Linked DNA regions of Homo sapiens: region 2 is linked to region 1. Evidence: fine-mapped expression QTL. A gene starts in region 1. The other region holds a variant in brackets. All regions are shown on one strand. Distances are between the middles of the regions. Region 1 holds the start of BCAS1-AS1 (BCAS1 antisense RNA 1). Region 2 overlaps BCAS1 (brain enriched myelin associated protein 1).

What was found.
Region 2: its variant is fine-mapped to the expression of BCAS1-AS1 in spinal cord (GTEx, PIP 0.97).

What each region holds. Positions count from the first base shown.
Region 1 is chr20:53,912,786-53,918,170 of GRCh38, reverse strand. It overlaps BCAS1-AS1 (BCAS1 antisense RNA 1), which reads right to left and starts at 2,682. Exons shown (of 5, transcript NR_199019.1): 1 at 2,605-2,682.
Region 2 is chr20:53,940,966-53,946,350 of GRCh38, reverse strand. BCAS1 (brain enriched myelin associated protein 1) reads left to right here. Exons shown (of 13, transcript NM_001366298.2): 13 at 1,355-2,810. The coding sequence ends at 1,429. It overlaps BCAS1-AS1 (BCAS1 antisense RNA 1), which reads right to left. Exons shown (of 5, transcript NR_199019.1): 4 at 4,956-5,066; 5 at 2,770-4,176. Among named protein-coding and RNA genes, the nearest start is that of BCAS1-AS1, 28 kb to the right of the region's middle. The variant C/T (reference allele first, on the strand shown) is at 2,347.

The sequences.
Region 1 (5,385 bases):
CTCCATTTCCCACCTTACTCTGCATGACTCAACCTGAATGCATCCCATTGGCATTCTGGATTTTTCTATAATCTCCTTTCCTTAATAAATTCAAGATTGCTCCACAAATCACCAACAGCTTATAATAGCATTACTGTTTCTGGGCTAAATCAGGGGTGCAGCACTGGCCAGTAGCTATGTCTATGGATTATCTGAATAATTGCTTCAATTCCCCACTTGTTTCTGAGTGAGTGTAGGCCTGACCCTTGGGCATGGCTGAACATTACTCATAGTCAAACCGAGAGTTTCAACGCTAAATGTGACAGTGTGTGCTATATCTGTTTTCTCTCCAGCAGATTATTCAAATACCATCTAGTTGAAGTCAAGCTGTCCCAAAGCCCACTGAATCTTTGTCCCAAAGGTCCCTGTAGGAGCCCTGGAAGAGCTTCCTCTGCTATATTGTAATCTCTTTCTCCGTGAATATGTGATGATTGGATGCTTTCAGCCCAATTCTTTTCTCCTGCCTCATGTCCCCTAGAGATCCCGATGGCTCCTTATAAAAGCCATGTGTGTCTTATCTCTTCCCATGCAGTCGCTAAAACCAGAAAGCAGGCTGGAAAACATTTCCCCCAACTGTACTGTTTTTCATCATTTCTTTCTGACACCCTCAGATAACTTGTTAGCATATTGTCTTTCCCCATTCAGTGCCGCCCTCACCGGGTGTTTGAGGGCTTAATGACATCACCCAGGAATTTGTAATTAGAAACAAAAATGCCTCTTTCAAAATCTATTAACACTGGAAGAGGGAAGAAAAAAAAAAACTTTTTAAGTTGCTGGTACAACCCCAAATGAATGAGGCCTCTTCTGACGAGGCAGAAACACTGCCAGCTTTCAGGACACTCCCAGGAAAGCACTGAAAACAAGTCACAAGTAACCTTTCTGGCTGCTGGTGCCAGTGCCACACGCAAGGGCTGACACCGGGACCTGGGATTGGCCTTGGACATTTTATAGGAAATGACACTGCTCTCTTGACTCTCCCTGGGAGAAGTTGTGTTTCTGGAAGCTCCTATAAGTCTCCAAGAAGTGTTGTGAATTTCTATCTCTGTGACTTTTGATTACTGAGTTTTTATTCATTCAATAAATTGTTTGGAGGGCCTCTCGCAACAAGCCTGTTCCTGGGGTCTTAGCTGCTGTCAATGGGGGTCACGGTGTGTTCCTGTGAATAGTAAGACCAGAGCTCTACCGTCTGATAGCCACTAGACATACGTGACTATTTAAATGTAAATTCAGAATAACAAAAATTAAATGAAGTTAAGAATTCATCCCCTCACAGTTGCGTAGCTGCATTTCAAGAGCCCAGTAGCCACATGTGGGTGGTGGTTACCATATAGGACAGGACAGTCCGGGCGCAGTGGCTCGCGCCTGTAATCCCGGCACTTTGGGAGGCTGAGGCAGGTGGATCACCTGAGGTCAGGAGTTTGAGACCATCCTGGCCAACACGGCGAAACCCTGTCTCTACTAAAAATACAAAAATTAGCCAGCCATGGTGGCGGGTGCCTGTAATCCCAGCTACTCGGGAGGTTGGGGTACGAGAATCGCTTGAACTTAAGAGTTGGAGGTTGCCGTGAGCCGAGATCGTGCCACTGCACTCCAGCCTGGGCAACAGAGAAAGGCTCTGTCTCAAAAATAAATAAATAAATAGATAGATAGATAGGACAGGACAGATGCAAAACATTCATATCATCCTAGAAAGCTCTCTGTGCAGTGCTGGACTAGGTAGTCAGATTTGCCTGGGACACTCTGGACTATACCTGCTGTGTCCGCATCATCATCCATAGCACTCTGTTTCACTCTCAAAAATGTCCTGGTATTTCAGCTACCCTTCTACCCGCTGAGCCACACTCTTTGCTAGGACTTCCCTGAAACCCAAACCCTTTGTCTTGATGAATAAGTTGGCAGTGTCCAGCAGTCTCCCCCACCCCATTCCCTCTCACCTATCAAAAGCAACAATTTTAGGAACAGGAAAAAAAAAAATCCAAGTGAAGAAGTTGTCATTTCTCCCCAATTAAATGATTTCCTTGTCAGCGGTTTCACTTTTGTTTTGTATTTCCCTTTGCCTAAAGCAGCTCTGATGGGCGCCCTTTGCCCTGAATCATGCCCACAGATCTCACAGGAAGGAGGCCGTCCCCGGCTTCTCCTGAGCCCTCCCGGCCACCCTCCCCTACTCCCAGCCTCCCCTTCCCGTCTTGCCCAGCAGAGGGCGTCTGAGTTTAATATTCTCAATAAAGAGCATGTACACAATCACTTGGGATTTTTTTTTTCTTTCTTCCAGTGATACTTTTTCTTTGTGAGCAGCAACTGAGGTGCCAGATAATATAGGTCACCTGAAGGACAAGCCGTCAGAATTGGAGATCAGAGCCGCTCAGGCCGGCCGCCAGCTCGTTAGGGAACCGCACACTCAGCTCCCACCCAGCTCGGGACGCCCAGCGGGAGCTTCCCTTGCAAACACCAGCAGACACCATTTTGCAGAACTCTTAAGAAACGCGGGTTAAATGTGTTAGGTACAACGCATGCAGCCAAGACGGGCATGGAGAGCGAGAGGGCTGGCCCGGGGGGGAAGCAAACCTCCTGATGATGGGATTGCTCTTGCTGGGGGCTTTGTAAACAGCCTTGCATCTCACACCTCTGCCAGGCAACAAAATGGTGGTGGCTAGAAAAAATAAATAAATAAATAAACAACGCGGGGGTGGGGGGAAGGTGGCACCAGGTAGGTACCAGAGATGGACTTTTCTACAATTTTCTTGGGCTGTCCGTTACCAACAGTTATTCTCTCTCTTTTTCTTTCTTCCTTTCCTTCTCTGTCTCTCTCTTTCTCCACCCCCCTCCCTCTCTCTCTCTCTTCCCCCTCCCTCCCTCTCTCTTATTCTCCTTGTTACATTCTCTGCAGTAATCTTCCCCCTCCTACTGAAGGGGGCGGAAGACCCAGCTGATTTGACTCCAGCTCCCCCTCCTCAGCCTTGCAAATTCCTTATTGAGCATAATTTCTGATTTGTTTCTATGTATCTTAAGGGGTGAGGTGCTGAGGCAAGTTAAGAGTTCGGGTTATCTTGTTTGCCTGTTTTGGTGCACTGAACATATTTACGAAATGAAAAAGCTCCTTTCTAAATGGGTGTTAACTGCTCTAAGATTCCCAGGAAACGTGTTGAAGGGACATCTAAATGGAAATTGTGCAGTATTACTCCATTGCACCTTTTAGGAAGAAAACAATTGTGGCTACTCTGTTGGGCTCTGGTGGCAGTGTAGTAGTGAGTGATTTGTGTGACTGCGGCACATTCATTTTCCTTTTCTATTATAATCTCACCTTCCTTAAGGAATAAATGAGACCATACAGTAAAGGGCTAAGCAAAGTTGCATGACACAGCTTCGGTAGCAGCTGTTACTGTTTTATTATGTCTTTGCTTCAAGCTCTCTCCCTGGGCCTGGAGCTTAGCTTCTGCACACAAATGCTTGATGGAGAGAGCTCTGTGTTATCTGAATCCAGAAATTCTACAGCAGAGGTTTGGCTCCACCTCACCATTGATTTCCTTTCGGTGATTTTGTAAGTCATCACTTTGTAATGCAATTTCTCTCTGTATGAAACAAACGAGTATTTTTTTTTACCACCCCTTCTGAGACTGTTGATAAAACACACTCGACAAACGTTTTACAGCACCCTTGTGAGGCACTAAGGAATGGGGAGAAATCTACACCTAACCACCACCACCACCAGGCATCCCAGTGTGCTCAGGGCAGCGCCAGTTTTTGCAGAAGTATTAATAGCCCCTCCTTTCACTCCCCCAAGCGTCTTCGATGGGATGGTTAGTTATAAGGTCACGCTACAGAAAACATAACACCAGGCCTGGAGAAGTTCAGAGTCAGGGTGAGAGAAAAGACTGGGAGGAGGAGGTGGGCACTGGAGACCAGATAACCAGAGAGATAACAGATAGATACATAGATAGACAGGTCATAGAGATACATAGATAAGATAGATGATAGATAAGACACATAGATGATTGATAGATGATAGATAGATAGATAGATAGATAGATAGATAGATAGATAGATAGATGATAGATACATACAATATATATAGATGAGTAGATAAAGATAGATAGGTACAGCCAGGCATGGTGGCTCATGCCTGTAATCCCAGCACTTTGGGGGGCCGAGGCAGGAGGATCACTTGAGTCCAGAGTTCAAGACCAGCCTGGGCAACATAACGGGACCCCGTCTCTATTAAATAAATTTTTAAAAAGATAGATAGGTAATAGATACATAGATGACAGACACATAGGTACATAATACATACATAGATGATAGATAGATGGAAAATAGGTAGAGGATGGATAGATAGATGGTAGATAGATACATACATACATATAAATGGGTAGATATAGATAAGTAATAGAAACATAAACAGGTAATAGACACATAGATACATAATACATATATATATATACATACATCAATAGAGAATAGATGGATAGGAAGATGGATGGATGGATGGATAGATAAATAGATACCTGGAGATTAAGAGAAGGAGAAATGAAGCTAAATGAAGCTTCATTTAGCTGAGAAACTGAATGACCGTGGGCAAATGTGTCATCTCTCTGAGTCACTGCTGCTTCATGGGGAAAGCAGGGACCATTGAGTCAGGCCTGCTTCCAGGGTGTGTAGCTGATGAAATGACAGGCACCTGAGCACCTGGCACAGGACCTCTCAACATGCAACTACGGCATAGCAAAGAAGGGATTTGACTCCTCAAGAACCAAAGAGGAAACCTCAAAAGAAAACCATCATAATACATAGAGTTATGTGTCATTTCCAAAAATATAATTATATCTTATGCTTTATTTTATATATATGTATATATACATGTATCTGTATATGTGTATATATATACATGTATACGTACATATATACGTGTATATATACGTATACATATATACACATGGATATATATACACACACATGGATATATATACATATATGTATATATACATATATACGTATATACATGTATACATATATACGTATATATATGAATATGTGTGTGTGTGTGTGTGTGTGTGTGTGTATATATATTTTTTTTTTTTTTTGAGACAGAGTCTCGCTCTGTCGCCCAGGCTGGTGTGCAGTGGCGCGATCTCAGCTCACTGCAAGCTCTGTCTCCCAGGTTCATGCCATCCTCCTGCCTCAGCCTCTCAAGTAGCTGGGACTACAGGCGCCCACCACCACGACTGGCTAATTTTTGTATTTTTAGTAGAGACGGGGTTTCACCATGTTAGCCAGGATGGTCTTGATCTCCTGACCTTGTGATCCGCCCGCCTCGGCCTCCCAAAGTGCTGGGATTACGGGCATGAGCCA
Region 2 (5,385 bases), 28 kb before region 1:
ATCCCATGATATGACATCCTGGCAAAGGCAGAACTCTAGGGATGAAAACAGATCGGTGCTTGCCAGGGTCTGCGGTGGGGAGCGGTTGACCACAAAAGGCACAAGAAAGATCTGAGGGGGGACAGAACCATGTGACATGTTGATTTGGATGGTGGTTTTAGGGGGCTATTTGTGTTGGTCTAACCTCATAGAACCAAATACAGAAAAGGTTAACTTTACTACTTATAAGTTATACTTGACAGAAACGGTAAAGTAATAATAATAATAATAGTACTCAGGCTAGGCATAGTGGCTTACACCTGTAACTCCATCACTTTGGGAGGCCAAGGTAGAAGGATCACATGAGCCCAGCAGTTCAAGACCATCCTGGACAACAAATTGAGACCCCGTCTCTACAAAAAAAATTTTAAAATTAGCTGAGTTTGGTGGTGTGCACCTGTAGTCCAAGCTACTGGGGAGGCTGACGTGGGGGGATCATTTGAGCCCAGGACTTCAAGGCTACAGTGAACATAGTCCCACCACTGTACTTCAGCCTAGGCAACAGAGTAAGACTTTGTCTCAAAAAAATAAAATAAAATAATTGTATCTGCCTGACAACATTCCTTCACCCACATTCAGTCAATGTTAAGGCTAGGTACCATGTGCTAGGAACCTGCAAGGCACTGAGACACGCAGAATCCTTGCAGCTTCCAATCTGGTGTAGAAGACAGATGTTAGACAAATAAATTAGATAATAAGATCATTTCAGAGAGTGGTATGTTCTGAGAGAGAATAAAATAGGGTTTGGGATGGGGGGTTGGGGGAAGGATAGCATTAGGAGATATATCTAATGTTACATGACGAGTTAATGGGTGCAGCACACCAACATGGCACATGTATACATATGTAACAAACCTGCACATTGCTCACATGTACCCTAGAACTTAAAAGTATAATAAAAAAAAAAGAAGAAAATAAAACAGGGTGGTGAACCTAGATGGTAACTGGGGAGGGAGCTAAAGTGAGGTAGAATTAGTACCCCCTAGGTACTAAGTACATTATAAGCATGAACTCACTTTATCTTGGGAACAACCCTCTGAGATAAGTTTGTCATTTCCATTTTAAAGATAAAGAAACCAAAGCGCAAAGAGATGATAAGTAATTTGTCCAAGATTTCACAAAGCTAGAAAGTCATGTAACTGGGTATCGAACCCGGGCATCTGACTGGAGACCATTCTCTTACCCAGCACTGAGGAATGAGATATATTAATTTAGCCCAACACCTAGCACAGAGTAAGTGCTACATAAATGGCCATTGTTGCTGTTGACATTACAGAGCTTCAATAGGCTGCCACGTCTTTCTGTTTTTCTCCAGGGACCAAAGCGGATGTTGGATGCTCAAGTGCAAACAGACCCAGTATCCATCGGACCAGTTGGCAAATCCAAGTAAACAAATCAGCACGGTTCCCACCAGGTTCTCCTGCCACCAAGATGTGTTCTCCTTACTCCATCTCCTCCCCAAACACGCTCCATGTATATATTCTTCTGATGGCCAGCAAATGAAATTCTGCCTAGAAATTAAGCCCGAGCTGTTGTATATTGAGGTGTATTATTTACGTCTCTGGTCCAGTCTTTTCTGGCAAATAACAGTAAAGATGGTTTAGCAGGTCACCTAGTTGGGTCAGAAGAGTCGATGATCACCAAGCAGGAAAGGGAGGGAATAGAGGAATGTGTTCGGGTTAAGTGATGAAAATGGCAGTGGTGGCCGGGCGTGGTGGCTCTCGCCTGTAATCTCAGCACTTTGGGAGGCCGAGGCAGGTGGATCACCTGAGGTCAGGAGTTCAAGACTAGCCTGGCCAACATCATGAAACCCCGTCTCTACTAAAAATACAAAAATTAGCCAGGCATGGTGGCACACACCTGTAGTCCCAGCTACTCGGGAGCCCAACGCACGAGAACCGCTTGTACCCAGGAGGTGGAGGTTGCAGTGAGCCGAAGTTGCACCATTGCACTCCACCCTGGGCGACAGAGCAAGATTCTATCAAAAAAAAAAAAAGGCAGTGGCAAGTAAGTTATAGAAGAGAAATGCTGCTAGAAGGAATTAAGCGTTGTAGTAAATGCGTGCTTATCCTCTAAGCTTGAAGAAGGGAGACGAAAATCCATTTGTTTAAATTCACATCTCAAGGAGGGAGAACCCGGGCTGTGTTGGGTGGTTGCCAATTTCCTAGAACGGAATGTGTGGGGTATAGAAAAAGGAATGAATAAGCGTTGTTTTTCAAATAGGGTCCTTGTAAGTTATTGATGAGAGGGAAAAGATTGACTGGGGAGGGCTTAAAATGATTTGGGAAAACAATTGCTTTTGAGGCT[C/T]AGTGACAACGGCAAAGATTACAACTTAAAAAAAAAAAATAAATAAAAAATAAAGGAAGTTGCACGGTTATTTTGCAACACAAGGGGGCGGCAAGGTCCCCATTTTTATCCTGTAATACTGTATCCCTAACAAAGATTTGGTCTCTGCTATCTTACATTATTAATGTTTCTCAGATGGCTGAGGGGCTCGCTTCATCTGTTCCGTCTGACACTTATCTCAAGTGTGTCTGTCATTCCTAATGTTCTCAGGATGTGCTCTGATAAAACCCTCCCCATAACCTCAGTTAATAAAAATTTACAGAAGACTTCTCAAATACCTGAGTTGTTTTTAATACCTGTACAAAGGAGTAAATAGGACCCTGAGTCTATTAAAATGTAATTCAAAGTAGCATATGATTGACTGACAGTCATGTAAACTGTATCTTTCTTTTTCTGATTTAATAAAAAATACATTTACTTCTAAAGTATCTTTTAATTTTCAACTTCAAAGCAGTCCCACTCTATATCTGAGATGACTCTAACTTCTACATTATAAAATCCATACTCTTTCTCCATTATCTTCTTTGGAAGATCATTCTCTCCCAGATCTTCCCGGATTTCCTTGTATATGGGCACACACACACACAAATGTGTGCAGTTGTATGTTTGCATGTACACACACATGCATGTATAGAATAGTGCTGTCTTAGGCCAGGTTGCTTGGAGCAGAGCCTGAGATGGGGATTTGGACGCATAGGATATACTGAGAGTGGGCTCCGAGGGAAAGGGAGTAAGAGAAAAAGAAGAGGGCAAGAAAAGAGTTGGGCAAGGGTTGGTTTCAACTGGAGCATGAATTGCACCACCCAGATAGTTTGACCTTGAGTCAAGGGAGCCAGCCTTTGAACCCTGGTAGGTGAATTCTGGGCTGCCCTGGGAGGTGGGGGGATGGGCAAGCGGCCCCCATTGAGCTGAGAAGCTGGGATGCCTAAGTAACTGGAGGATGAGTGCATTGACAGTGTCCACTACAGATACACACCTATATGTTCAGATACATATTTATACCCATATTTGCATATATATGCACATATTCATATATATAAATATATATCATGCAGGAATAGATCCATGCACTCACACAGTCATATTTACATACATGCAAATAAACACATGTAACTAACACAGATCCACACACACACATTGGCTCACACAAATCTATCTCATATGCAATTCATCACACATTGATCGGAGATAAACATTGAATATACTCTCCTGATGTGGATGGACCTCGACTCTAAGGACAAGTTTGCTGCTTAGGCAAATTACACCACGGCTTTGGCAAATAGGCATTTGGAAAATGTGTTCAGAAAAATATGGTATCACTCAAAACCCAAGCGTAAGTGAGGAGGGGATCCTGAGCTGCTGGGGCCTATTAGCTCCCAGCTTGGACAGGTCAAATTCGTGTTTCCAATAAAGACCAGAGGTCTTTTCCTTGCAGCTGGGTTAGTTTTTTCAAACCTCCTGACCATACCTCGAGATTACTCACACCTGTGCCTCACCCAGTTGAGAACTATCTCGTGCCGCTTAGTATCAGAATGCTTAACTTGGCATGAAGCAGGAAAACAGCACTTGGGGAAGCCATTGGTGGGAGGCCCATCACTGCCATCGTCAGAGCACGGGGTGATTCAAGGAAACCAGGCAGCTGCTATTCCTTTGTCTCCAAACACCGTGGGGGTTGTCTGCTGCAACCTTTGGTGAGCTCCTGAGCTGCAGTCCATTGAGGAAGGTGACAGTATCATTTGCAAGTTTCACCTCGCTGGGTACAGGGGCTTTTTGCCCAGATAAGAAATGCCCCTAGGCAGGAGGAAGAGAAACAGACTGAGTAGCCCAGGCCAGTTACTTAGCCAGTTACTAAGGCAGATGGAGCCCTCCCAAGCCCCCACTCAAACAAAACAAAACAAAATAAAACAAAAAAAAAGCCTCTTTGCTGAGAATCTCTCTGCAAAGCATGCCAACAGTTTTTATAACTGGTTTCCTATGCTCCTGGGCCAAAAAAGAGAATAGTCTTTTAATGAAATTGCTTTTTTTTAAAAAAGCAAGAAATGCCAGAGAGAAGTAAAGCGCATGACTTACTGGGAGAACTCTAAATTCAGTTATGGCTTAAGAAACAAGTTAATACTCCATTTTTGTGTTTGTGTGTGTGTGTGTGTGTTATTGTTGTTGAGATCCCATTTCCAATGCATTTACAATAAATACTAATGCCCACCCCTTATGCAGAACTAGAGTGAAAAAGAGCTGAAACTCACCAATAAACCCAAGAAAGCCTTTAGGACACAGATTCCCAGAAATGCCATCAGACAGAACAAGCAGTGGGGGAAATAAGCAAAGCAAAGGTGGCACACAGAAAAACATGATTAAAAGAGAAAGAAGAATTAAGACCTGGGGGAGGGAGCAAAAATGACTTTCTTATTATTATTATTTATTTACTTATTATTTATTTTTAGGTACACAGGGAAGTGTGTCTTCTCCCATGTCAAGAAGAAGTGGCCTTTCCAGGAATGGAGCTATTGAGCTGAAATGGCTGCCACTGCGCGTACACACACACACGCGCACACACACACACACACACACACCTCCCTTCCAGTTCCAGCTGACGGTGACTTTTTGACTGGTAACCATAAAAGAATTCATTCAAAAGGGCAGTTGTTCCCAGCAGCCAGTGAGGTCCTTCCTGCATTCGTTGTCTTGGAGAAGGAGGCACATAACAAAATAGAAACCAAAATGGGAAGGAAAAGAGAAAGAAAGTGAAATTCCTGGTCTTTGTTGTATGTATCCCCTTGCTTTTTAGATAAATTATCAGGGGTTTAAACACACACTCTCTCCCCTCCCTCCTCCCACTTCACACACACTAGATTGTTCTTGTCTGTTTGCAAACAGTCCAGAAGCACTGGGGTCTCATTAAATTAGATTCTAAGTGTCTTAAAGAATTAGATTTCAAGAAACCAAGAATCTGTGTCCTTTCCCTTCTCAGAGTGCCTGGAAGGGTGCAGATTTCTCCAATCT